4 linked regions of the Homo sapiens genome follow. The protein of the gene in region 2 interacts with the protein of the main gene of each other region in a pairwise test. Each region holds a gene or a part of one and is shown on either strand. Other genes may lie near its edges.

The links.
Region 1: the proteins of UPF1 (region 2) and STAU1 interact in binary tests that used the Homo sapiens proteins (3 or more experiments, as listed by UniProt).
Region 3: the proteins of UPF1 (region 2) and GSPT1 interact in binary tests that used the Homo sapiens proteins (3 or more experiments, as listed by UniProt).
Region 4: the proteins of UPF1 (region 2) and UPF3A interact in binary tests that used the Homo sapiens proteins (3 or more experiments, as listed by UniProt).

What each region holds. Positions count from the first base shown.
Region 1 is NC_000020.11:49,178,313-49,185,340, reverse strand, and holds part of STAU1 (double-stranded RNA-binding protein Staufen homolog 1), read left to right. Parts: intron 1-6,096; exon of another isoform or gene 6,097-7,028. UniProt on the Homo sapiens protein: Binds double-stranded RNA (regardless of the sequence) and tubulin.
Region 2 is NC_000019.10:18,862,944-18,868,743, reverse strand, and holds the end of UPF1 (regulator of nonsense transcripts 1), read right to left. Parts: intron 5,307-5,800; coding exon 5,132-5,306; intron 4,575-5,131; coding exon 4,493-4,574; intron 3,456-4,492; coding exon 3,294-3,455; intron 3,184-3,293; coding exon 2,966-3,183; intron 2,701-2,965; coding exon 2,581-2,700; 3' UTR 2,578-2,580; intron 2,224-2,577; 3' UTR 514-2,223; downstream 1-513. Other genes in the region: GDF1 (embryonic growth/differentiation factor 1 precursor), read left to right, coding at 1-147. UniProt on the Homo sapiens protein: RNA-dependent helicase required for nonsense-mediated decay (NMD) of aberrant mRNAs containing premature stop codons and modulates the expression level of normal mRNAs.
Region 3 is NC_000016.10:11,905,933-11,912,960, forward strand, and holds part of GSPT1 (eukaryotic peptide chain release factor GTP-binding subunit ERF3A), read right to left. Parts: intron 1-7,028. UniProt on the Homo sapiens protein: GTPase component of the eRF1-eRF3-GTP ternary complex, a ternary complex that mediates translation termination in response to the termination codons UAA, UAG and UGA.
Region 4 is NC_000013.11:114,291,573-114,298,600, forward strand, and holds part of UPF3A (regulator of nonsense transcripts 3A), read left to right. Parts: intron 1-28; coding exon of another isoform or gene 29-61; coding exon 62-220; intron 221-226; exon of another isoform or gene 227-1,012; intron 1,013-1,098; exon of another isoform or gene 1,099-2,149; intron 2,150-3,778; coding exon of another isoform or gene 3,779-3,880; exon of another isoform or gene 3,881-4,536; intron 4,537-7,028. UniProt on the Homo sapiens protein: Involved in nonsense-mediated decay (NMD) of mRNAs containing premature stop codons by associating with the nuclear exon junction complex (EJC) and serving as link between the EJC core and NMD machinery.

The sequences.
Region 1 (7,028 bases), on a different chromosome or scaffold from region 2:
GAAAAGCGAACAAATACAGATTTCCCCAGTCCTGTTTTGGCAGAGACCTGCCTTTTAACCCACTTTAATAGAGATAACTTTGTGTCAAAGTTAAACTACAGTTAATAATTCATAATGAAAACTTAAAATGTTTCTTTACAGTAGTTGTGTAAAGATACTGCTGTTACCTTAGGTTAAGAATTAAGCAAAAGATAATCTTCTAACATAGAATTGTTTTCCAAAGTGCCCCCGTCTGCCCTATTTCCAAATAACAAATTTAGCAAATATGAATGAAACCTTAATTTTTGTGAATAGTATGAAATCACAGCATAAGTGTTCACGTTTTTCTTTCTTGTGTCTAAAGGATCTCTCTTACAATGGAAGTTGACAGGAATATTATAAATATTATAAATGTCTTTGTTGCATAACTTTCAAATTTCTGGTCGTGAATAGTTTTCAGCTTTTAGGTCTGTTATTTGAGTTTTGTAGGTGTACTTTGAGCTTGATCAGGTACAGTGGAAATGTTACATGTTATGTTTTAGTTATGACTACCTGGAAGATGGGGAAAGATACACCTCTTAAAATTGATTTAGGAAAGAAACGCCAATTTAGTATCTGGGAAAGGACACAACACATTTTTAAAAATGTGTAGTGCTTCCCATTAAGCTTAACGTAAAACTTTTAAGCATTGAGAATTGTTACCATAAATATAGTTTCTTGAGAATAAGTTGCTCTCTTTTAGGTTTCAGCCAGAAAGTCCATGTATATACAGATTACAGCAGGTCCTTGAATAATGTTGTTTCAAGATAATGTTGAGAAAAAAAACTGTCTGTGGAGTTTACACGTTCTCCCTATCCCTGCATGGGTTTTCTCTGGGTACTCTTGATTTCCTCCCACATCCCAAAGCTGTGCACGTGAGGTTCACTGGTGTGTGGAGCTGTGTGTGTAAGTGTGAGTGCTTTCTGCAGTGGATGTCCTGTCCAGGACTGGTTCCGGCCTTGCACCCTAAGCTGCTGAGATAGGCTCCAGCCACCCCAACCCTGAACTGGAATAAGTGGTAAAAAAAAAAATTTTTTTTTTTGAGATGGAGTTTAGCTCTTGTCACCCAGGCTGCAGTGCAATGGTGCAGTCTCGGCTTACTGCAACCCCATGCCTGTAATCCCAGCACTTTTGGAGGCTGAGGTGGGCAGATCACCTGAGGTCAGGAGTTGGAGACCAGCCTGGCCAGCATGGCGAAACCCTGTCTCTACTAAAAATAAAAAAAATTAGCCGGGCTGGGTGGCGGGCACCTGTAATCCCAGCTACTCAGGAGGCTGAGGCAGGAGAGTTGCTTGAACCTGGGAAGCAGAGGTTGCAGTGAGCGGTTATCGTGCCATTGCACTCCAGCCGGGGCAACAAGAGCAAAAGTACTTCTCAAAAAAAAAAAAAAGGCATGTATACTTCACATTTATTTCAGTGTTTAATATTCGAAGTGTTTGGTCTTTATTTAAAAGTTTGGTGATATTTTTCTGATGAGAAATATGCCCTAGAACCTAACTCTTGTTTGTATCAATAAGCGTGTGTTAGTCGGAAGTCTCAGTTTCCAAGAACCTACCCCTTATGTTAAGAGAGGATTTACTGTATTTTAAGTTTAGAAATGGCCATGACTCATGGAACTCTCCTCCATCCCCATTCTAAAGTCCAGATCATTGATATCATTCTGGGTGTTATCAAAATGGATACTGCTTCATCCAGTCTCTCTCCCCAATACCACAAGGTAGTCTCAGTTTGTGGGGCAACTTTCTTTGAGCCTTTTTACTGGATTGAGTAAGAGTGTAATTCAGTATAAAGATGAAACTTTCATGAAAAGGGTATCTTTTTGTGGGATTCCACAAGTCAATCCCAGAGTTTGTCGCCCAGGCTGGTCTTGAACTCCTGAGCTCAAGTCATCTTCCCACCTCAGCCTCCTTAGTAGCTGGGATTATAGGCAGAGGCCTTGTTTTCATGAGCCTCTAAATTGGATCTTCTTATTTGATGTGATACCCAGTGACACAGAATTGTTCAATTTGAGGAAATATAAATTCCTCCCCTCTCAAATAAGAGCTTTGGAGTTGCTTTTCTCTCAGAATGGGATTTTAGAGCTTTCAAAAATGTTTAGAGAATTTTATGACAGATTTGTTTCACACTAGACCTATAACAGGTTATTTTACATTGACTTCTGGTGATGGAGACATTTGTGGTTGAAATGCTTCTCGTGTAATTTTCTACATGAGCTTTTCTTTAAATAAAACTTCACCAGAGTCAAGGCTGTATACCATTTGTGCTGTTCCAAAAAATATAAATTGCCAGTTATCAGTTGAACTATGAGAGGACATGTTAGTTGCTATGGTTATTTACCCCCACCATTTTATTATGAAAAATTTCAAACATATAACAAAGTTTATGAAGTTTTATTGTACATCTCTTTAGATACCATCTACTTTCTATTTTTGCCTCCCTGTTTCATGGTGCTGAACACCGTCTACTATTTTTTTTTTTTTTTTTGAGACGGAGTCTGGCTCTGTTACCCAGGCTGGAGTGCAGTGGTGTGATCTCGGCTCACTGCAAGCTCCACCTCCTGGGTTCATGCCATTCTCCTGCCTCAGCCTCTCGAGTAGCTGGGACTACAGGTGCCCGCCACCATGCCTGGCTAATTTTTTTGTGTTTTTAGTAGAGATGGGGTTTCACCGTGTTAGCTAGAATGGTCTCGATCTCCTGACCTTGTGATCCGCCCACCTCGGCCTCCCGAAGTGCTGGGATTACAGGCGTGAGCCACTGTGCCCGGCATACCTTCTGCTCTTTGTCATGAACATTTTACCATACAGTATTATGAAGCTTGAATAATGTTGGCCAAATCCATTGTTCTCACCTGCTAAGGAGATAATAGGATTATAAATATATAGCTGTGTTGATCTTATCAAATGCCACGGGATGGATGGGCTTGGATATCTGTCTTGTTGACAGCTTAATGCTCTGAACTAGAAAACCTTACTGCAGAGAAAAGTAATATTTTTAAAGTGGTAAAATGGGAATTACTGCAAATAGCTTAATTTGTTTTTTAAGTGTTTACATTCCCATACTGGTGAATAAGGTTGATGTAACAGTGATTTATGTCACCAGATAAATGGAAGTAGAGAAAAATTTCTGCAGGCTGTTAATTGCTGTATATTTTCTGGGATTACATATGTTTATTTGTTAAAGAAGTAGACTCAGGGAACTCCCTCAAAGTATATTTACTGGAAGCAAAAGTGGAAAAATCTATTTGAGAAAGTGTTTGCTTTCGATTAAAAATTAGTCTTCTGAATATCAAATCTGTAACCCATCTGGCATCTGTTTAATCTGGAATCTAATTTGGGAAAGAAGTGTGATGACTATGTGGGTTTATAACAGTAATGGAAGCAAAACTGGCCATTTTATTATGATAGAAATTTTGTGTCATGTCTCCCAGACAATAAAGGCTAAGAAAATCTATTTAAATACATTGGGGTCTTTTCCCCTGAATGAACATGATTGCTGAGGGTTAAACCTTCATTAGATTGCCTCTGCTTTTTTTTTTTTTTTTTTTTTTTTTTTTTTTGTTGAGATAGTCTTGCTCTGTTGCCCAGGCTGGAATGCAGAGGTATCATCTCGGCTCACTGCAACCTCCACCTCCTGGGTTCAAGCAATTCTCCTGCCTTAGCCTCCCGAGTAGCTGAGACTACAATTGAGCACCACCACGCCCGGCTAATTTTTTGTATTTTTAGCAGAGATGGGGTTTTGCCATGTTGCCTAGGCTGGTCTCGAACTCCTGAGCTCAGGCAATCCGCCTGCCTTAGCCTCGCAAAGTGATAGGATTACAGGCTTGAGCCACTGTTCCCGGCCTTGCCCCTATACTTGATGTAGCTACAGAACTGGTTGCTCAGTGAGTGGGTTGGTTTTAGTCAGCATATTCTCTGATCCTATTTAAAATTTTTTACAAGTGGAGTGTTGCTGTAAGTTTTATAGATGTTTATGTGTAAGGACAGGTTTAGTGAATTTGCTGGATAATAATATTTACTGCTATTGAGCTCTTACCATGTGCCAGGTTAGAATTACAGGGTGAAAGTTATTTTATGCAGAAAAGGAATTAAAAGGTCAGGTTGAATTTACCTAATAATATAAAAGTTGCAGTTCATTTAGCTCTTTCCTTGAACCAAAGAAAAGGGTTTCTTAGACCCTTTATGTTGTATTTCTAATACTCATAAACATCTTTGCAGCGTAAAGCTCATAATAATTGCTGAGGATGCTGATGCGCTTCCGAGGGGCCAGATAACTGGCTCAGAGTCCTGAGGCACCAAGTATTAGTTCTAGAGCACAGGCTGGTCTGGCTCCAAAGTCAGTGTTCTTTCCACTGAACCATGCTTTGTCTCTAAATTATGCTTAGGTGCTTTTTGTTTAGGATAATTGATTCTGCTTGTCACTGGTGGCCCTCCCCTGACTCTCCCCACCGCAGCAGCTAGGATGAATTTTGCTCATTAGAACCCTAGATCAATTTGAAAGAAAGTCTGGTTAAGTAATAGTCTTTTAGATGGACCCTTGAAATAGCTTTCCAGTTTACTTTTATTTGTTATGTCAAATTAAGCTAAAACTTAAAGCTGATCCACAGGTTTGTGTGTGGGGAGGGGCTGTCTTATTAACCTTTGTGTTAAAGGAGGCCAGCTCCTAAATTACTGCTATCGTGTGTCATCAGGTTTGTTAAAAATTGCTGGCATGGTGGCCCACGCCTGTAATTCCGTCACTTTGGGAGGCCAAGGCAGGCGCATCACCTGAGGTCAGGAGTTCGAGACCAGCCTGGCCAACATGGTGAAACCCCATCTCTACTAAAAATACAAAAATTAGCTGGGTGTGGTGGTACGTGCCTGTAATCCCAGCTACCCCGGGGGCTGAGGCAGGAGAATGGCTTGAACCCGGGAGGTGGAGTTTGCAGTGACCTGACATCGTGCCGCTGCACTTCAGCCTGGGCAACAGAGCAAGACTCTGTATCCAGGGGGGGAAAAAAAAAAAAAGAACTGTAGTCCAGGTTGTTGCTAAAAAAAAAAATTCATTTCTTCTGAATTCTAACATTCTGCTTTAGTGGAAATGAGTTAACTAAGCTTCCAATTAACTTTATAGGATAGGTGCTGGTTGTCCTCTTTGCTTCCTAGCCCTTTCTAACATCCCTCTTGTGGCTAATACTGTTGGGAGTATTTAGTACAGCTTCCTGTTTGGAATTGAACTGCTTCCTGAACAATTTTGTTTTACTTTTGTTTGAAACGGTGATCTGAATCAGAAGCTTCTTTGGTATTCCACCTGGGCAGTCTTCTCTTATGGTTAGTCTTGAAAGGCTGGATCAGTGAAATTAAATCTGCCTTTGGATGTGAGCTTTTAGTGAAATGGTGTCTGAAGTTCCATTTTGTGTTTAACCTCAACTGAGGCTACCCTGTAGTCTGTAATGACATAGCATGTCTCATTAATCACTAATAGGTGTTGGAAATACCCCTTGGCATGAAGTGAGCAGATAATGCTGCTTACATTGTCACTATATTAGCTCCCTTCAGAGATGAGCTTTAGGATCTAACTAGATCTTGTCTGATTCTCTCCTATCTTTGCTGTTTTGAAATCCATGCCTTCTATAGATTACAATTAACTGAGGCATGAATTTTCTACCCTTGCAGATTCCACCCTGATTCAAATAGGGCCATTGTCTGCTGAAGCCATTGTGATTTTATGCAGAATGCTAGGCAGTCCTTTCCTCTGTCAGAAAGAACAATTTATATGTAATAATAAGTCTCATTATGCTTGGAAGCTTATTTTCCTTGTTGCACAATTGAACCAACCTGCTCATGAAAGCTCCATGACCCTTTACCTAGATGACAGTCAAATATAGTTAGGCAAATAAGTTTCCTTTTGGTTTGTCATTGAGTAAACCTTTGCAACCTGTAATGTTTAGCAAGTGACTACTTCTGTATAGTAATTTTCCTTTTAGTTGAGAATTTATTCAAGCACCAAACATAAAAAAGAATAAAAGTGAAATAAGCTTTCTTTTGCATAAGGGACTTTCTATAATTTGCTACTTTTTATCTTCTTTTTTTTTTTTTTGAGGTGGAGTTTTGCTCTTGTCGCCCAGGCTGGAGTGCAGTGGCGTGATCTCGGCTCACTGCAACCTCCACCTCCCAGGTTCAAGCGATTTTCCCACTTCAGCCTCCCGATAAGCTGAGATTACAGGTGCGTACCACCATGCCTGGCTAATTTTTTTTTTTTTTTTTTAGATGGAGTCTTGCTCTATCGCCCAGGCTGGAGTGCAGTGGCGCGATCTTGACTCACTGCAAGCTCTGCCTCCCGGGTTCACGCCATTGTCCTGCCTCAGCCTCTGGAGTAGCTGGGACTACAGGTGCCCGCCACCATGCCCAGCTAGTTGTTTTTTTTTTTTTTTTTTTAGTGGAGACGGTGTTTCACCGTGTTAGCCAGGATGATTTTGATCTCCTGACCTTGTGATCCACTCGCCTTGGCCTCCCAAAGTGCTGGGATTACAGGCGTGAGCCACCGCGCCCGGCCATGCCTGGCTAATTTTTATATTTTTATTTTATTTTATTTTTGAAGCAGAGTCTCGCTCTGTTACTCAGGCTGGAGTGCAGTGACCCAATCTCAGTTCACTGCAACCTCTGCCTCCCGGGTTCAAGTGATTGTTCAGCCTCAGCCTCCCAAGTAGCTGGGATTACAGGCATGTGCCACCATGCCAGACTAATTTTTTTTTATTTTTAGTAGAGACAGTGTTTCACCATGTTAGCCAGGCTGATCTTGAACTCCTGATCTCAGGTGATCCACCTGCCTTGGCCTCCCAAAGTGTTGGGATTACAGGTGTGAGTCACTGCGCCGGCCTAATTTTTGTATTTTTAGTAGAGATGGGATTTCACCATGTTGGCCAGCCTAGCCTCAAACTCCTGACTTCAGGTGATTGGCCCACCTTGGCCTCCCAAAGTGCTGGGATTACAGGCCTGAGCCACGGTGCCTGGTTTAGTATGCATTCTTGACTG
Region 2 (5,800 bases):
CACGCGGCCGCCCCGGGAGCCGCCGACCTGCCCTGCTGCGTGCCCGCGCGCCTGTCGCCCATCTCCGTGCTCTTCTTTGACAACAGCGACAACGTGGTGCTGCGGCAGTATGAGGACATGGTGGTGGACGAGTGCGGCTGCCGCTAACCCGGGGCGGGCAGGGACGCGGGCCCAACAATAAATGCCGCGTGGTCTGCTCCGCTGGTCTCCTTGGACTCCTTGCCTGGGTGGTGGGGAGGGCGCCCCTCAGTCTTGGTGATCGGATAGGCCTTTCCACCTCCAGGCCACCTGCCAGAGGCCTAACGCGCCACTCCGGGGAGCCGCCCGGACAGGCCCAGGTGCTGCCTACGGGAAGGGCCCAGGGGCAGGGGTCGCCCTTCAGTCCTGCAAGGCAGACCTGTCCCTTCTGGGCTTTGCCTGTCTCCCTCTGGCCTCCTTCACACCCCAACCCGTCACTCAGCCAAGGCAAAACCCCAGCACCCTCCACCCCCTGCAGTTTATCCAACCTTGGTGTGAAGTCAAAACTGTTTATTAATATTTGGTGACAAAAGAACTTAAATTGACCGAAAATCAAAAGTTACATTGCCTTGGTACAGTGCGCCTGGGTTTGTCAAGGCTGCTGCTACAAAGCTGGAGAACACAGCACAGGGCGAAGCAGAGGCAAAGCGGCCCAGCCCAACAGCCGGGATGGGGCAGGGAGCGTCCCTCAGGCCGCCGCGGGGTCACCGCGGAAACCTACCCGGTGCATGCCTCTACGCGGCCTACCGGAAGAAGGGGAAACCGAAAGCCCTAGAGCAATGGGAATAAATAAGAGTCCCTGCCAGAAGGAAGGTGGCCTGTGCGTCCCCGTCTGTCCCATGTAGAAGCCGGAATCTGGAGGTGTTCGGATCAGGGCCAGTGACAGCCCCAGGCCCGGGGCAGGGGAAGCTGGAGGCCTGGCCGCCAGGCAGAATGACACCCCAAGCCAGGCGTTCGAGGGGCTGGGGCAGCTCTCCTAAAATGACCCTCTGCCAATGACACCACACCCTCAGTCCCTTCACACAGAACGCGGTAATTTCTGTAACTTGTTTCCTTACCCCCCAGAAGCAGCAATCACCCCATCAGCAAAGTTGCCGGCAGGCAGAGCTCCCAATTTGGGCTTTCGGTGTGCAGCGCTCCGTGTCTAACCAGCACAGGGACTGTCGGTACCTCCTGGGGACGGGGACAGGGACAGGCCCTCTTGTCCTTCCACCAAATCTTCCAAAGGCCCCCGGGAAAAAGCCGTCAATCCGGGAACAGCCACCTTCTCGCCTCCTGGCCACAGGGCCAGTCCTGGCCAAGGCCCCTCGCAATGGGGCCAAAAGCACCTTCCTCACCGGTGCGGGGCCCTGCGCCGAGTCTAGGCGGGAAGCAGCTTGGCTTCTGAGTCCAGCGGAGAACGAGCAGCTTCCAGGCTCGGCGGGCGGCTACCCCAGCAGCCTGATGCCCCGCAGAAAGAAGCCACTGGAAGCTAAAACCAACAACAAAACTCCTCCGGCCGCGGCACAGGTGTTGCTCCTCTTCTCCAGTAGCGCTGGCTTGTTTAAACTGTTTCTGGAAGCTTCTCAAATCTCCCAGGTCCACCGCTAAGATTTTACAGACAAACTTAGGAAAGTATTCTTCAGTACTCCTTTAAAAGAATCTTGAAAAAAACAAAGAGAAAAACCCAAAACACCCTTATTTTCTTTAAATGAAGGCCCTCGGAGAACACAGGCAGCGCGACCTCGGCGCGTCCGGTAGGCGTGGACAGACGCGCCCTCCCGGGGCTCTGCCCCGCACGCTGCTGTCTTTGCAAGGAGCCTGCTCGGGCACAGAAATGCGAAGTTTTTTTTCCTGCTAAGACGTAGTCCCCTTTCAATCAAAGAGAAAAAGAAATAAAAGAACAGAGGAAAGGGCTACTCTGAGATGAGGGTCTTCCTCCCTCCGCCCTGGCCGCAGCCCCGATGGGACGGAGCGGGGCCTCCTGGTGGCCGCGGCTCCCGCGGGCCGGCCCCTCCTCCGCTCCCTCTGCTCCTCGCCGCCGCGGGCCAGCAGGGGGCGCTCGGCCTCGGCTCCTCTCCCTCGTGCGCTCTCCCTTCCTGTTGCTCACACAGTGGTGCTTCAGTTTTAGCAGTGGAAAACAGGTATCCGTTTATTTTTATTTTTTATTACCCAGAATAAGATGCTGATGGACTAAGCCACGTTGCTTAGCTCTTCCGCCGCCACCTGTCAGGAGGGAGAAGGGCAGGAGGCGGTGAGAGGCTGCGACCTGAGCCCCACAGGTACCCAGCACACAGGACAGTGAGGGAGAGCCCGAGCTGCCCTCCCCGACTCTGATGAGGAAACTGAGGTCCCGCGGTGGTCCCCGGAGCAGACAGGATGGGGTAGGGTGGGGTGAGGAGCCACCCTGACTAGCAGTGAAGGGCACAGGCCAAGCTGGCCCTGAGGGCCTATGACCCCCACCAGGCACAGCACACATTTCCAGATACCACCCCTCCAGTGCAGCTCCCTGGGGAGAGCCCCCTCCCATCCTTCTCCTTGAGGCTGGGGTGGGGCCAGGCCTGCTCCAGGGGGGCTTGCCTTTTAATACTGGGACAGCCCCGTCACCCCGCCATGCTGGTAAGCCCGCTCTCCCTGGTACGTGGAGTCCTGTGAGAGCGCCACGTCGATTTGTGATTTAAACTCGTCACCAAGGTAACTGTCCTGAAAGACAAGGTCAGGAGGTAAGCAAGCCACAGGCCAAGGGTGCTCACATCCACCCAGCCCTCAGCAGCCCCAGAGAAAAGAATGGAAAACCCGTCCCCAAACTAAGACCCAGGAGACCCACTCTGATGACCCCAGCCCAGGGACAGGTAATTCAGACAGTGGACATGGGCCAGGCCAGCTCTCTGGGGCTCTTCAGAGGGAATGTTTCAGGTGCATAGCCCCACCCTCACTCAGGTAAGTCCCGTCCCAGGGGCGGGCTCACCTGGGACAGCTCCGGCTGGGAGAGGCCGGGCTGGCTCATCTGGGAAGGCTGGCTCATGGAGATGTAGCCCTGCGTCAGGGCGCCCTGAGAGAAGGGCTGTGACGCCACATCCTGGCTGGCTTGGCTGTTGGGGAGGTTAGTCTGGCTGGGTCCAGGAAGCCCAAAGCGGTTCTTCTGGCGTCCCCCACGACCAGTCTTGCCTTTCGGGGTGCCTCGCCCTGAAAGACAGCAGTCCAGGGTGATCCGAAGGAGGCCAGGGCCTCGCAGACAAGCACACCCTCAAGAGCTCTCAGGAGGGCCACACCCAGCCGCAGCCACAGATGCTCACCTGCAGCAGGCCCGTTGGCTTGTCCAAAATAGCCAGGCGGTGGCATGGGTGGCATGACCAGGTTGAAGGGGATGGGAATGTTCATGGCAGCCACGTGGCTAGGGCCGGCACTGATCATGCCAATCTGGTCATGGGTCTGGAAGTACATGCTGGAAGGCCGGCCTGCAAATCACAGTGGAACACGGCAGGTGTCACCTGCCTCGGTCAAACCCCAGCGATACCCCACCCACCCCACCAGCCAGTCAGCCGGAGCTGCACATCTGTCCTGGCTCTGCCCAGGCTGAAGATGCGGATTCGCAGGACTCCATGTTAACTACAGCAGCCTGCCTGGGGCTGGGTGCTTGGGCAGGCACCTTCCCCGAGGAGAGTCTGCTGGGAATCATTGGCCTACACAGATCTTAAAAACTGAAAATTGGGGCCGGGCGTGTTGGCTCAAGCCTATAATCCCAGCACTCTGGGAAGCCGAGGTGGACCACCTGAGATCAGGAGTTTGAGACCAGCCAGGCCAACATGGCGAAACCTCGTTTCTACTAAAAACACAAAAACTAGCCGGGCATGGTGGTGGGTGCTTGTAATCCCAGCTACTCGGGAGGCCAAGGCAGGAGAATCGCTTGAACCCAGAGGGGGAGGTTGCAGTGAGCCAAGATCACACCACTGTACTCCAGCTTGGGCAACAGAGCGAGACTCGGTCTCCAAAAAAAAAAAAAAAAAAAAAAACACCTGCAAATTGGCCAGGTGCAGTGACTCACGCCTGTAATCCCAGCACTTTGGGAGGCTGAGCAGAAGGACTGCTTGAGGCAGGAGTTTGAGACCAGCCTGGACAACATAGGGAGACCCTGTCTCTAAACAAAAAAAAGAAAATAAATGAAAATCACCCTGCATTTACCAAAGGAAAAAAAAAATCCTTTTTATGAAAATGTTCTATTTGTACTACATGCAGTCCCTGCCCTACCAAAAGGCAAGAAAAAGCTAACTAGCTTGATCACCAGGAAACACAAATGAATAAACTCTGGTTAAAGACAAACACCCCAGGAGTGTTCCGGGGCTAGAGATGCCCTAGGGGCGGGGAGGCCAAGGGAGCCAGGCACCGCCCTTGAGGGGAAGGAAAGATGGGGGCACCTAAAGCTGCAGCCATGGGAACGGCCAGCATCCCGGTGTGAGGACAAGGGGTCGGCCAGGTCCCCTGCTGAGCGACTCACCCTGGCTGCTCCGATCATAGACGGAGCCTGGGATGATGGCCTCCCGGGCATCATACATGGCTGTGGTCATGAAGCGGGCTCCCTGCGAAGGTTTAGATAGGTGAGGAATTTGTCATCTCAACAGAAGGAACAACTTCCCACGGGCCCGGTGGCCTGGGAGGTGGCAGGTATGCAGCTGTGAGGTGTTGACACTGTGCCAGGGGCTCTCCCTGGAGACAGGAGGGAGCTGCTGTCTCATGGCCTCTGGGTCTCGCCTGCCCTCCTCGGCAGACCTGGGCTCTGATGCTGACCCTTGGGCCTCAGCTCAGGAAGCTTCACACCCCCTCACTACCAGATCACCCCGGGCTTGCAAAGCTTCCAACTGCCCGTGTCCAAGGTCCCAGGCTGCTGCATGCAGCACAGCAGCCCTGAGCCCAATTCCCAGAGGCCACCCAGGACTTAGCGGCCCCAAGCCAAAAATGCCACACACGGCTCGGGAGACAAGAAGTGGGCTGGCCCACCCTCCCCTAGGAGAGCCCACCCTCCCCTAGGAGAGCCCTCCCTCAGCTCACGGGCACACGGGCCAAGCTGGCACGTTCCCAGCAGTGTTTTGGGCCCGGGTTTCTCCGTGCTGCCCTGCTGTCCTGTGCAGGCGCTCACCGGGTTGATAGTGTTGACCAGCTTCCGTGGCTTGCTGAACTGCATGAGGCTCTCACGCAGGTTGTTGAGCGGCCCCTCCACCAGCACCTTCTGCTCCTTATAGTAGTTCAGCAGGTGGTTCCAGAGCGGCTGCTTTGATAGTGCCTTCGGGTTGCCCACAATGATGACGCCATACCTGCAACAAGGGCGCAGTGCTGAGGACGCAGGTGGAGAGCTGCCCGTCTCACAGGACGGTCCAAGAGGCAAGGCTGCATTCACTCAGAACCCAAATCCAAGGCAACAGAGGCGTGGACCGGGCAGCAGGCAGGCTGCCAGCCACAGGGACAGGCCCCAAAGCCCAATGCCAAGCCACTGACCCTGCACACGGGTTGATTTTGTGGCCGACTCTAAGCAGCCCCATGGCAGACACCTGGCTGGGTGGATACGTTTGGAGAGAAGACCTGCTGTCAAGAGAGTCGGCCTTCCAGGCACCGGGGCACACGCGGCCCCACAGGGCCCCCAGCAGGCCGGGGCACTGACCCGATGCCCAGCTCCTCTAGCCCACCTCACGAAGCTGTGGGGGGACCCACCCAATACTGCCCACCAAACAAGAGGGCGCCTTAGAAAGAGGGAGTAACCAATGACAAAGCCATGGTGACCTAGAGGAGAACCACCGCGCATATGAGCCGG
Region 3 (7,028 bases), on a different chromosome or scaffold from region 2:
TGGATGACTTTTTTCTCTACTTCAGTAGTCTCAACAAGTTGGCATGATGTATTGTATAGAATAAATACACAATCAATTTTTACTGAATTACTGTGTTTTCCTTTGATTTTCACACTGGTTCCTTCCAGTCACATCACTTCATTTTTTCACTTTTCTTTTTTCTTTTTGAAATGGAGTCTCACTCTGTCGCCCAGGCTGGAGTGCAGTGGCACAATCTGGGCTCACTGCAACCTCCACCTCCTGGGTTCAGGCATGAGCCACCACAACTGGCCTCACTTCCCTTTTCTGACCAGGACCCCTAGCCTCCATCTGTACATTCATTGCATTTCCATTAGGGCTCAAGAGAGTGAAAACAATTTTAAATGTGCCAACTTTCTAAGAAGGGGTTAGGGAAACACTACACTCAGGAGATGTTGGGCCAGCTGTGGTGGTTCCCGCCTATAAACCCAGCACTTTGGGAGGCCAAGCTAAGAGGGTTGCTTGAGGCCAAGAGTTCAAGACCAGCCAGGGCAACACAGTGATGCTCTGTCTCTACAAAAAAAAATGTAAAAATGAGCCAGGCGTGGAGGCATACAACTGTAGTCCCAGCTATTTAGGAGGCTGAGGCAGAAGAATCACTTAAGCCCAGGAGGTTGAGGCCACAGTGAGCTATGATTGTGCCAATGAACTCCAGCCTGGGCAACAATGTGAGACCCTGTCTCAAAAAACAAAATTAAAGAAAGAAAATTTTAAATTAACTATGTGGTTCATACTATATTCCCATTGGATTATGCCAGGGTGGTAACGATAAAAAAGCAAGATTCATTTAACTCAGAAAGAAAATTAGGCTAAGATAATAAATCCAGCAGCCAACAAGTCTTAATAATAGGCACTTATCTGGTAAGATCACATGAGACAATATTTCTTGAATTTTTTTAATGTAAATCCCTCCAACAACAAAGAACGATCCCATCTCTGAACAAAAATTTGCAAGCTGAGGTTTTTCTTTTTTTCTCCTGTAGACAATACTGAAAAACAGTAAAAGCAAACACCAGAAAGAAGTCTACAGAACACATAAAACAATGTGGATGGTTTTGCCTTAATTACCTAACACTCTAAAAATAAAAAGGCTCGGTACAGACAGTGGTGAACAGAGCTGTTTTAAAGTATTTTACATCAACACTTGCTAAAATGTAAAAAGAAGTAATTTCAAAATATTGCTTTAAATCAGAGCACTGCCTACTTATGACAAATGTCATTCTGCTACTACTGAGACAGAACACAGAGAAATGCCATGGTCCAAGCTCACAGGTCCAGTTTCTGGAGAGTCTCAGTCTACTTTAATACAAAATCACAAGGAAAGCACTAGCAGTCACTACTAGAATAAACTTTGAAATGACCTCGATTCCAAGCCTCACTCCTCTCATGGATATGACTGACCTAAGTTATTTAGCTTTACTGAGCCTTTATTTTCTCATCTGTAAAATGGGTCAACAGTACCTAACCTCAAGAGAATGTTGTGAAGACTAAATAACTGATAAGGGGTGGTAAATGCTCAATAAATTTATTACAGCAAGCACTTCAAAGCCCCAAAATAATTTCAAAAACCTTTAAGAATGAAACATTAGGCAAATGCCAGGGCCACTCTCAGAAAACTACACGCTAGTTGTAGTAATTAGCTCCAGGCATGCCCTTCCCGCCCCCTGTTATTAAACAGCATGATGTGGCAGATCAAGCACTAAACTAGCAGGTAGCAAATCTGCATTCTAGACTCAATGGTGTCATTAACTCTGTGAGTGACCTTAGGCATTTACTTAGCATTTCTAAGGCTCCAGTTCCTTTATCTGAAAATGAAGAGGCTGTACAACTGCTAGGGTCGTATCCAGCGCTAACATTCTAAGAACCTCTTTATTCGGACACAAAAGCAATGCCACATTATCAACCTGATCAGACTTTGCATAGAGTAACTAAAATTCCATTATGTTTTTCAAACAACCCTGAAAGACAGTCTTATGAGCTACAACCTAACTACTTCAAAAACAATTTGAGGCCAGGCGCGGTGGCTCACACATGTAATCCCAGCACTTTGGGAGGCTGAAGTGGGCAGATCACTTGAGGTCAGGAGTGCGAGACCAGCCTGGCCAGCATGGCAAAGCCCCGTCTCTACTAAAAATACAAAAATTAGCTGGGGATGGTGGTGCACACGTGTAATCCCAGCTACCTGGGAGGCTGAGGCAGGAGAATCGCTTGAACCAGGAAGGCAGAGGTTGCAGTGAGCCAAGATCGTGCCAGTGCACTCCAGCCTGGGCGACATAGAGAGATTCATCTCAAAAACAAAAAAGAAACAAAAAACCATTTAAATAACATTTAAAATACACAAACCAAAACCATTTCAGATACCCTCAAAAAAGTACAAAAATAACAGAAACAGCCGGGTGCGGTGGCTCACACCTGTAATCCCAGCACTTTGGGAGGCCGAGGTGGGTGGCTCACTTGAGGTCAGTAGCCACCAAGACCATCCTGGCCAACATGGTGAAACCCTGTCTCTACTAAAAATACAAAAATTAGGCCGGGCGCGGTGGCTCACGCCTGTAATCCCAGCACTTTGGGAGGCCGAGGCGGGCGGATCACGAGGTCAGGAGATCGAGACCATCCCGGCTAAAACGGTGAAACCCCGTCTCTACTAAAAATACAAAAAATTAGCCGGGCGTAGTGGCGGGCGCCTGTAGTCCCAGCTACTTGGGAGACTGAGGCGGGAGAATGGCGTGAACCCGGGAGGCGGAGCTTGCAGTGAGCCGAGATCCCGCCACTGCACTCCAGCCTGGGCGACAGAGCGAGACTCCGTCTCAAAAAAAAAAAAAAAAAAAAAAAAAAAAAAAAATACAAAAATTAGCCAGGCATGGCGGTGCGCACCTGTCATCCCAGCTACTCAGGAGACTGAGGCAGGAGAATCGCTTGAACCCGGGAGGTGGAGGTTGCAGTGAGCCGAGATCACGCCATTGCACTGCAGCCGGGGCAACAAAGGGAGACTCCATGTCAAAAATAAAAAAATAACCGAAACATTTTTCTGCTACCAAAATTAACCACCTAAAGGCAATGGACAAGTAGTATGGTAACATACTGGAGTTCTACAGAAATATTCAACCAGGAAATTACCCAGTGACATTCTGCAGAATGCGCTTTTTTTTTTTCAAGTGAAGCGACATACAATTACCTAGTGGGAATGTGGTTTGGAAGTGAGTGTCACCACTGTTAGGTCAGGTGCTCGGGAAAGCCTTATTAAGTGTTCTTCTCTCTTTGAAAGTAGAATTATGATGGGAAACTGGTTCAACTTAGAGTACTGTAACAACTAGGTTTCCTTAGAACAAAGCCATTTACGAAGGAGCCATATAAATCTACAGTCTCGGCTCACTTTGTTAAACTCTACTGAAAACAAGGCAGAAACTTCTAAGCCTTGAAATGAATCAACAATCAACAGCTAAAAACTGTCAGTTTTCTTGATTGTTCTGAGGACCTCAGATCCTTCAACTAGTAGCCAAATTCTTGTCTCCCGAAGATATTTTAAAACCAAGGGTAGAATGATGAAATTCTAAACATGCCCCAATAGACACACTAGCCAGACTCATAGTAACTGAACTCACTGCTGTTTAATACGAAATAGACAAGTACTGTAAAAAGATAACCAGTGCTCTACCTTCAGCACTCTCGACAAACTTAAAAATACAAAACTTGGCCAGGCACAGTGGCTCTCGCCTGTAATCCCAGCATTTTGGGAGGCCGAGACGGGTGGATCACTTGAGGTCAAGAGTTCGAGACCAGCCTGGGCAACATGGTGAAACCTCATCTCTACTAAAAATACAAAAATTAGCTGGGCGTGGTGGCGGGCACCTGTAATCTCAGCTACTTGGGAAGCTGAGGCAGAACAATCGCTTGAACCTGGGGAGGCAGAGGTTACGGTGAGCCGAGTTAGGGCCACTGCACTCCAGCCTGTGACAGAGCGAAACTCCATCTCAAAAAACAAAAACAAACAAAAAAACTTAGCCAGGCGTCATGGTGGGTGCCTATAGTCCTAGCTACTCAGGAAGCTGAGGTGAAAGATCACTTGAGCCCAGGGATTTGAAGTTACGATGAGCTATAATCACACAATTATACTCCAGCTTGGGTGACAAAGTAAGATCCCGTCTCTAAAAAATAATAAGTAAAAAGTTTTTTAAAATACACACAACCTTGGTGATCAGGCTTTGGCTGCAACTCTGGCCCAGGAGGCCAGAAAAAAAAATACACACAAGGCATTCGCAAAGAACAGTGAGCAGATAATAGATAAATCTTTAGTTTTATGAGAGTGACAAGACTGAGAGGTTTTACGTAAGGGATTGCTGTTCTCGGCTTTGAAAGCCTTCTCTACACTCTCTGCAGGGCTCACTTACCACACTGTGACTTCCACTAGAGTACACTGGGCATCTGATCCCTTTCTAGATTCCTTCAGGACCACAATTTATTCATCTTGGTGTTATTTCAAGTGCCTAGCATAGCATCTTTCATTCAGTGGACTGGTAAATGTTTGTTAATGAGTCGCTAGTACATATATCTGAGCAAAACCAGAAATTCGCATTTCTGGAAAAAAATTCCATTCCAATACTGCTAACTCAACCCAGAAGGTTATCAAATCTCTTTTTCATTCCTTTCTCTTCAACCAGAAAGAAAATACTATCTGAACACTTTCAGACATTTCTTCCCCAGCAAACCAAAGCAAGCAAATCAAGGCTTAAACTTTGTCGTCTACATTACTTCCTTAACTTGTTCAAACTGAAATTGCTGTCTTTTCACGCTGTGCAACTTCAGAAAAGGTAAAAAATAAAGAACAGAAGAATGCAATAAGATATGTACTGACAGCACTACGTAATACCTGCTCCAAAGAGGGTTTTTACACCAGTCAAAAATTCTAACAGTTTAAACAACTGCTCAACTTGGCACAGCACAGCCCTAGATGATGCCTTCGCTTCTTCCCTAAATCCTCAGTCTCAAGCCATTCATACGTGTAAAACCATGAAACAAGAGACAAAAAGGTCAGCCATGGCAGGAGAAGTAACGAAAGGCAGTGTTTACTACTGTGATACTCCAGGGATACTGTGGGGCCTCTCCTCTACCCCATCTGCTGTCCCACTGAAGCCTAAAAACACCTTTATATGAGCACTGTTCTTGCAGGCACTTCAGTCTCAAAAACACATTCTCAAATACAGAATCTTACCTATTATCTACCTCAACAGATAGAATTTAACATATTAATAAAGTGTAAGGGCCTTTCTGGATTAAACAACCATTACTTTGATTTGGAATCCTCTCTACTCTGGTGGCCCTGAAGAGGTCACTTCTGAGATGTTCCAGCTTAAAACTGAGAATATTCTAAAAAGCATCTGCCAAGTGGTGATGGTTGCATAACCTTACAAATATATTAAAAGCCACTGAACTGTATGTACACTTTACTTTTCTTTTTGGACAGTGTCTCATTTGGTCACCCAGGCTGAGTGCAATGGTGCCATCATAGCTCACTGCAGCCTCCAGCTCCTGGGCTCAAGAGATCCTCCCACCTCAACCTCCCAAGTAGCTGGGACTACAGGTTTGTGCCACCACACCCAGCTATTTTTTTTTTTTTTTTTTTTTGAGACAGAGTGTCAATGTCGCCCAGGCTAGAGTGCAGTGGTGTGATCTCGGCTCACTGCAACCTCCGCCTCCCAGATTCAAGTGATTCTCCTGCCTCAGCCTCCCCAGTAGCTGGGACTACGGGCGCGCACCACCATGCCTGGCTAATTTTTATATTTTTAATAGAGACAGGTTTCGCCACGTTGGCCAGGCTGGTCTCGAACTCCTGACCTCAGGTGATCCGTCCACCTCGGCCTCCCAAAGTGCTGGGATTACAGGCATGAGCCACTGCACCCAGCTGTATTTTTTTTTTTTTTTTTTTTTTTTTTTTTGTGGAGACAGGGTCTCAGTCTCACTATGTTTTATGGAGGCCTCAGGCAATCCTCTCACCTCAGCCTCCCAGAGTGTTGGGTTTATAAGTGTGAGCCAATGCGCCCAGCTTGTACAGTTGAAAAGGGTGAATTTTACAGTGTGTAAGTTAAATGTCAATCATTTAAAAAAAAAAAAAAAAAAGGCCAGGCGCGGTCACACCTGTAATCCCGGCACTTTGGGAGGCCAAGGCGGGCAGATCACCTGAGGTCAAGAGTTCAAGACCAGCCTAGCCAACATGGTGAAACCCCATCCCTGCAAAAACACACACACACAAAATAGCTGGGCATGATGGCAGGTGCCTGTAATCCCAGCTACTCGGGAGGCTGAGGCAGGAGAATTGCTTGAACCTGGGAGGAGGAGGTTGTAGTCAGCCGAGATCGTGCCATTGCACTCCAGCCTGGGCAACAGAGCAAGACTCCGTCTCAAAAAAAAAAAAAAACAAAAAAAAAACCTCCTCTTCCAATAAATAAGGCATTCAGCAAATACGGAACACTACAAAACAGAATGTTTCTCTTTAAAATTCAAGTTCCACAATACAATCTGCTAAGTTTTGGAGACAGTGCCTCCTCCAAGTAAGTACTGAGGGCTGCTGGTTTTATTCCATGCTTGTTTCTTAATGGCAGTGAGTTCTGAGAAGCATTAAAGGTGGGATGATGCAAAGAACACCACATCATTACTTTAGAAGCTCTGGCTGTTCTAAAAAGTTCAAGTAACCCTAAAATTACTAAACCAGTTTCTTATCTAACAATAAAAAAAACTAGGTGCAAATTGCAACTTAAATACATCCTATCAGATAAAATGCTTGTTCTAATATACATTAAGCCTTGTCTTCTATATTTTTATTCACTTGGGGACCTCACTTTTTAAGGAGAATCTCTTGGCCAATTTACTTGGCTCTAGAGAACTGTGCTTAAATGAATTACACTTAATTACACTTAAATGGGTTCCACTTAATTATTTCTTAAGGAACCTATATTCTTTAGTTTTCAAAGAGATCCAAGGTCAATACTGAATCCCAAGGTCTGACTCTCCAGGCT
Region 4 (7,028 bases), on a different chromosome or scaffold from region 2:
CCTCCCTGCTTCTGCCATTCTCATCCAGGCAGTTTATACACACGCTCTTCCATGTCTTTAGAGAATTCGAGAAGAGAAGCGAGAAGAACGGAGGAGGAGAGAGTTAGAAAAGAAACGTTTGCGGGAAGAGGAAAAAAGAAGAAGAAGAGAAGAAGAAAGATGCAAAAAAAAAGAGACAGATAAACAGAAGAAAATTGCAGAGAAAGAAGTAAGGATTAAGGTAATTCTGAGGAAACATTTCCTTTTTCCAAAAATAGCTCTGCTATAGTAATTACACTTTTTACATATCTTAGTTCTTTAGAATTTTGAAAACATTCTGAATTAATCTAATATTGTGTTGTTATTTTTTTCCATCTTTTCCATCTTTCTTTCCATCCTACAGCAGTGGTTATCACAGTGCGTCCTGAGCCCTGGGAGTCCTCAGGCTGCTGTTGGGTGCCTGTCCTCCTGGGTGTGCAGTGGGGAGCACACCCCACAGGAGCCCCACGCTGGCACACGTTGGGCTGCTGCTGACGCTCTTTTTTTTTTTTTTTTTTTTAAACTTTCCAACTTTCATTTTCGGCTCAAGGCGTACATGTGCAGGTGTGTTACATGTTCATTGTCAGCTCAACGCGTACACGTGCAGGTGTGTTACGTGTTCATTTTCGACTCAAGGCGTACACGTGCAGATGTGTCACATGTTCATTTTCAGCTCAAGGCGTACACGTGCAGGTGTGTTACGTGTTCATTTTCGACTCAAGGCGTACACGTGCAGATGTGTCACATGTTCATTTTCGGCTCAAGGCGTACACGTGCAGGTGTGTTACGTGTTCATTTTCGGCTCAAGGCTTACACGTGCAGGTGTGCCACATGTTCATTTTCGGTTCAAGGCGTACACGTGCAGGTGTGTTACGTGTTCATTTTCGGCTCAAGGCGTACACGTGCAGGTGTGCCACATGTTTATTTTCGGTTCAAGGCGTACACGTGCAGGTGTGTTACGTGTTCATTTTCGGCTCAAGGCGTACACGTGCAGGTGTGTTACGTGTTCATTTTCGGTTCAAGGCGTACACGTGCAGGTGTGTTACGTGTTCATTTTCGGCTCAAGGCGTACACGTGCAGGTGTGTCACATGGGTAAATCAAGTGTCACTGGGGTTTGGTGTGCAGATAATTTTGTTGCCCAGGTAATCAGCACAGTACCTGATGTTTTTCAGTCTTCACCCTCCTCCCATTCTCCACCCTCTACATTTTCCTTTAAAAAAAAGTTTTCCTCCCAGCACTTTGGGAGGCTGAGGCGGGCAGATCACGAGGTCAGGAGTTCGAGATCACCCTGACTAACATGGTGAAACCCTGTCTCTACTAAAAATACAAAAATTAGCCAGGTGTGGTGGCGGACGCCTTAATCCCAGCTACTCAGGAGGCTGAGGCAGGAGAATCGCTTGAACCCAGGGAGCAGAGGTTGCAGTGAGCCGAGATCGCGCCATTGCACTCCAGCCTGGGCGACAGAGCAAGACTCCCTCTCAAAAAAAAAAAAAAAAAAAAAAAATTTCCTGGCCGGGTGGGGTGGCTGACACCTATAATCTCAGCACTTTGGGAGACCGAGGCAGGCGGATTACTTGAGTTCAGGAGTTTGAGACCAGCTTGGCCAATATGGGGAAACCCCATCTCTACTAAAAACACAAAAATGAGCCGGACGTGGTGGCGTGTGCCTGGAATCCCAGCTACTCAGGAGGCTGAGGCAGGAGAATCACTTGAACCCAGGAGGCGGAGGTTGCAGCGAGCCGGGATCGCGCCACTGCACTCCAGCCTGGGCAACAGAGCAAGACTCTGTCTTAAAAAAAAAAAAGTTTCCCTGATTAAAAAATACACATTTGAAAACCACTGGTTTTGCCTTTCTGTGTGAAGGCTGACTCAGAACCGGGTTTTATCATTTCTTTGGCAGTAGCACTAATGAGTTTCTGTATTTCTTGCTGAGTTTTTTCTGTGACTGATACATTCATTTATGAGGGTGGTTTAATACATAGAGGGAATTTTTCTCTGTGTGAAATGTGTTGGCCAGAATTGGGACCAGCCATTATCTCCTCAGTACTAAACCTAGATTTGAACCTAAGGTATCACTCATTACTTATTATTTATTGAATACCTTATATTCAATAATATTGTACAATATGAGGAAAAAAATGAAATGTCAGGACTTGGGGAAAGAAGATAGCTTAGGAAAGGGTGGGGAAGAGATCATTGAACCATAGATTTGTTTCTGATATGGTCAGCAGTCAAAAACAGAAAAGTTGGCTGGGTATGATGGCTCATTCCTATAATCTCAGGACTTTGGGAGACCAGGGCAGGTGGATTGCTCTAGCCCAGGAGGTCAAGACCAGCCTGGGCAACAGAGAGAGACCCTGTTTCTGTTTTTTGTAGAGATGGGGTTCCCACTATATTGCCCAGGCTGGTCTCGTACTCTTGGACTCAAGTGATCTTCCTGCCTCACCCTCCCAAAGTTTGGGGATTACAGGCGTGAGCCACCATGCCTGGCCTGGTTTAGCTTTTAATAAGTATCTGTGCTCAGTATGGGGGTCTTTCACTTCTAAATCATGTGGAAAATTGAAATTCTTTTAATGCCTGAAAAATGGAATCTGTGGAGAAATGCAAAAGAAGGTGTATCAACAGCTTAAAGAAAGACAGATGGCTCATGGCTATTTTGCTATTTTTTTGTTTGGTTTTGGTGGGGGGGGGGTTTGAGACAGGGTCTCAATGTGTCACCCAGGCTGGAGTGTAGTGGCACAGTCACAGCTCACTGCAGCCTCTACCTCCCAGGCTCAAGTGATCCTCCCGCCTCAGCCTCCCATTACAGGGGTGCAACATCATACCTGAATAGCTAATTTAAAAAAAAATTTGTAGAAGTGGGGGTCTCACTATGTTGTCCAGGCTGGTCTTGAACTCCTGGGCTGAAGTGATCCTCCCACTGCTGGGGTTAGAGGCATGAGCCACCGTGCGTAGCACTCATGGCTATTCTTAATAAAGAGAAATATGGTTTGGGAGGCCGAGGCGGGCGTATCACGAGGTCAGGAGATCGAGACCATCCTGGCTAACACAGTGAAACCCCATGTCTACTAAAAATACAAAAAAATAGCTGGGCGTGGTGGCACACGCCTGTAGTCCCAGCTACTCAGGAGGCTGAGGCAGGAGAATCGCTTGAACCTGGGAGGCAGAGGTTGCAGTGAGCTGAGATCACGCCACTGCACTCCAGCCTGGGCGACAGAGCGAGACTCCGTCTCAAAAAGGCTGGACCGCGGTGGCTCACACCTGTAATCCTGGCACTTTGGGAGGCCGAGGTGGGCGGATCATTAGGTCAGGAGATCGAGACCATCCTGGCTAACACGGTGAAACCCTATCTCTACTAAAAATACAAAAAATTAGCTGGGCGTGGTGGCGGGAGCCTGTAGTCCCAGCTACTTGGAAGGCTGAGGCAGGAGAATGGCATGAACCCGGGAGGCGGAGCTTGCAGTGAGCCAAGATTGCGCCACTGCACTCCAGCCTGGGCGACAGAGCAAGACTCCGTCTCAAAAAAAAAAAAAAAAAGAAAAGAAATACGGCACACAGAACAGCTCAGCTGTTTAATGTTCCTCTGAGGATGCTAAGCAGTGAGCTTATGTGTGGCCACATGGGTGAACACACACAGGCGAGGGCTGGGAGGGAGCACAGCTGCCCATGCGCTCCGCTTGGCCTCCGGAAGCCTTGCAGGGCGTGGCAGAGCTGGCCTGCTCCCCAGCTCGTCTCCAGCAGCTCTGGCCTGCTCCCCAGCTCGTCTCCAGCGGCTCTGGCGTGCTCCCCAGCTCGTCTCCAGCGGCTCTGGCGTGCTCCCCAGCTCGTCTCCAGCGGCTCTGGCCTGCTGGTTTCTCATGAATGCACCAGCGGATTCCACCTCAGGACTCCGCACGTTTCCCTCCACAGGGACTTCCCCAGATGTGCCCGTGGCTCCTTCTTGGCATCTGGTCTTAGTTCCCGTCTTGGCTCTGCAGAGAGCCCTCCTGGGCCCTCCTCTTCCTGCGTCTCTGATGCTTTACTCTCCCTTCATGTCTGTTCGTAGCTTTTGATGCTACCTGAGGTTATCTTATTCCTTTGTTTCCTTTTTCATATTTTTGCCACTGTTCACAGCATTCCCCCTTGACCACCGTTGCCTCAGGTGGTGCATCAGGCGCAAGTTCCTTCGAGGCAGGGGCACCTCTTGTCTCATTCACAGCCATTCCCTAGTGCCTAGCACAGGGTCTTAGGCCCTGGTTCCTGCACACAGCTCCTCAGACCTCGGGAATCTGCAGTAATATGAGTGTCTTATATGCCAATGAGAGGACTAGGGGCTGGGGGCCCCAGGCAGCTTCAGGATGGGGACTAGTTGGCCAGAAAGCCAAGGCAGGACTAGAGGGTTGGGACTTTCAGTCCCACCCTAGCCTCCGAGAGGGCAGAGGGCCTAGAGAGAGGTCACCGGTGGCCAGTGACTTAATCAGTCACACCTACATAATGAAACCTTAATAATGCCTAAAGACAGGGCTTCCAGGGGCCAGGCACAGTGGCTCACGCCTGTAATCCCAGCTCTTTGGGGGGCCAAGGCAGGTGGATCCCGAGGTCAGGAGTTTGAGACCAGCCTGGCTAATATGGTGAAACCCCGTCTCTACTAAAAATACAAAAATTAGCCAGGCATGGTGGCGCATGCCTGTAGTCCCAGTTACTCAGGAGGCTGAGGCAGAAGAATCGCTTGAACCCAGGAGGCGAAGGTACAGTGAGCCGAGATCGCGTCACTGCAGTCTAGCTTGGGTGACAGAGCAAGACTCCATCTCAAAAAAAATAAAAAAAATAGACGGGCCTTCCGGGTTGGTGAGCACATCAAGGTGCTGGGAGGGTTACTGCATGGAAGCTCCAAGTACCACTACACCATACCCCATACCCACCTTGTGCATTTTTTCCGTTTGGCTGTTCTGGGTTGTATCCTTTATGATTAGCCAATAATCGAGAAAACAGTGCCTTTCTGAGTTCTGTGAGCCATTTCAGCAACTTACCAAATCTGAGGAGAGGCCATCGGGAACCCCTGAATTTATTGCTGACTGGTCAGAAGTACCGGTGACACACTGGGACTTGGAACTGTCGTCTGAAAGGGGGGCAGTCTTGTGGGACTGAGCCCTTGACCCGTGGGTTCTGGTGCTAACTCCAGGTCGATGATCTCAGAGTTGAGTTGAATGTGGAGCACGCAGCTGGTGTCGGAGGGGTGGTATTGAAAAAGACGTGCAGTGTCAGAAATGTAAGAACAGTTCCTAGGCACACAGAATATTTGTTGAATGGGTGGATGGAGATTTGCACTTCCTATGGTTCACATTTATTACAGACATGTTACTGTTGCAATTTTTATAAAAGATGGGCAGTTACCAGAAAGGAAATGTTTAAGTTCCCAGATTCCACATAGGCAGAATAAGAGGATGTTCACAGCTGACATGGGGCCCACGCTTGATGAGAAGCGGCTTCCAATGCTCCACCTTGCATGATGCGTTGTGTTCCCAAGTGAACACGTGTGATTGAATGCATCTGTGTATGGTCTTGCTATGCTGCAATTATGAGTGAGAACAGAATTCTCAGATGTACACCTTCCATTTCTGTTCTACAAATGATCTGTCTGTGGTGCTTCCGTTTTTTTTTTTTTTCTCCCTTTTCTCAAGTTAGCTGAGGTGCTTTAGTTTCAAAAACTATACAGAGAGCAGGGAGAAAGGCCAGGGGCATACAGGGCAGATGAAATATGTCGTGGCGACTTGTTCATTAATTCTGTTTCAGGAAAGAGAATAATCAGTGTTTTGAAAACTATAAACTATTCTAAAAATCATCAGTAGGAAGCAGCCTTTTAAAAATTTTTTTTTCCTTATTACAAAACTAATACTTGTCTATGTCAGGAAAACTAGACCCTATAGATGAAAGGAAATAAAGTCATTTCAGTTCTGCCATCTAGAAATAATCACTATTGGCCGGGCATGGTGGCTCATGCCTGTAATCCCAGCACTTTGGGAGGCCAACGCTGGGGGATCACAGGTCAGGAGTTCAAGACCAGCCTGGCCAACATGATGAAATCCCATCTCTACTAAAAATACAAAAATTAGCCAGGCACGGTGGCAGGAGCCTGTAATCCCAGCTACTTGAGAGGCTGAGGCAGGAGAATTGCTTGAACCAGGGTGGCAGAGGTTGCAGTTAGCTGAGATCAAGCCACTGCACCCCAGCCTGGGTGACAGAGTGAGACGTCGTCTCAAAAAAAACAACAAACAAAAACTACAAAAGTTAGCCAGGTGTGGTGGCACGCCCCTGTAGTCCTGGCTATTCAGGAGGCTGAGGCAGTAGAGTCGCTTGAACCCAGGAGACGGAGGTTGCAGTGAGCCGAGACTGCACCACTGCACTCCAACCTGGACGACAGAGCGAGACTCCATCTCAAAAAAGGAAATAATCACTATTAATACAGTGCTGCAGAGCCCTTTAGGTGGTGGTGTGTGTGTGAACATAAATAGAAGTGGGGGCTGGGCACGGTGGCTCACGCCCATAATCCCAGCACTTTGGGAGGCCAGGGTGGGTGGATTGCCTGAGGTCAGGGGTTTGAGATCAGCCTGGCCGACATACTGAAACCCCGTCTCTACTAAAAATACAAAAAATTAGCTGAGCGTGGTGGTGGGCGCCTGTAATCCCAGCTACTTGGGAGGCTGAGACAGGAGAATCACTTGAACCCGGGAGGAGGAGGTTGCAGTGAGCCAAGATCGTGCCATTGCACTCCAGCCTGGGCAACAAGAGTGAAACTCCATCTCAAAAAAAAAAAAAAAAATTAGACGGGTATGGTGGCGCATGCCTGTCGTCCCAGCTACTCAGGAGGTGGAGGCAGGAGAATCACTTGAACCTTGGAGGCGGAGGCTGCAGTGAGCCGGGAGTGCGCCACGGCACTTCAGCCTGGGCGACAGAGCGAGACTCTGTCTCAAAAGAGAAAAGTGTAAGTGAGATTGTGGTGCATGTTCTGTTTTTTAGCCCTTTATTCATT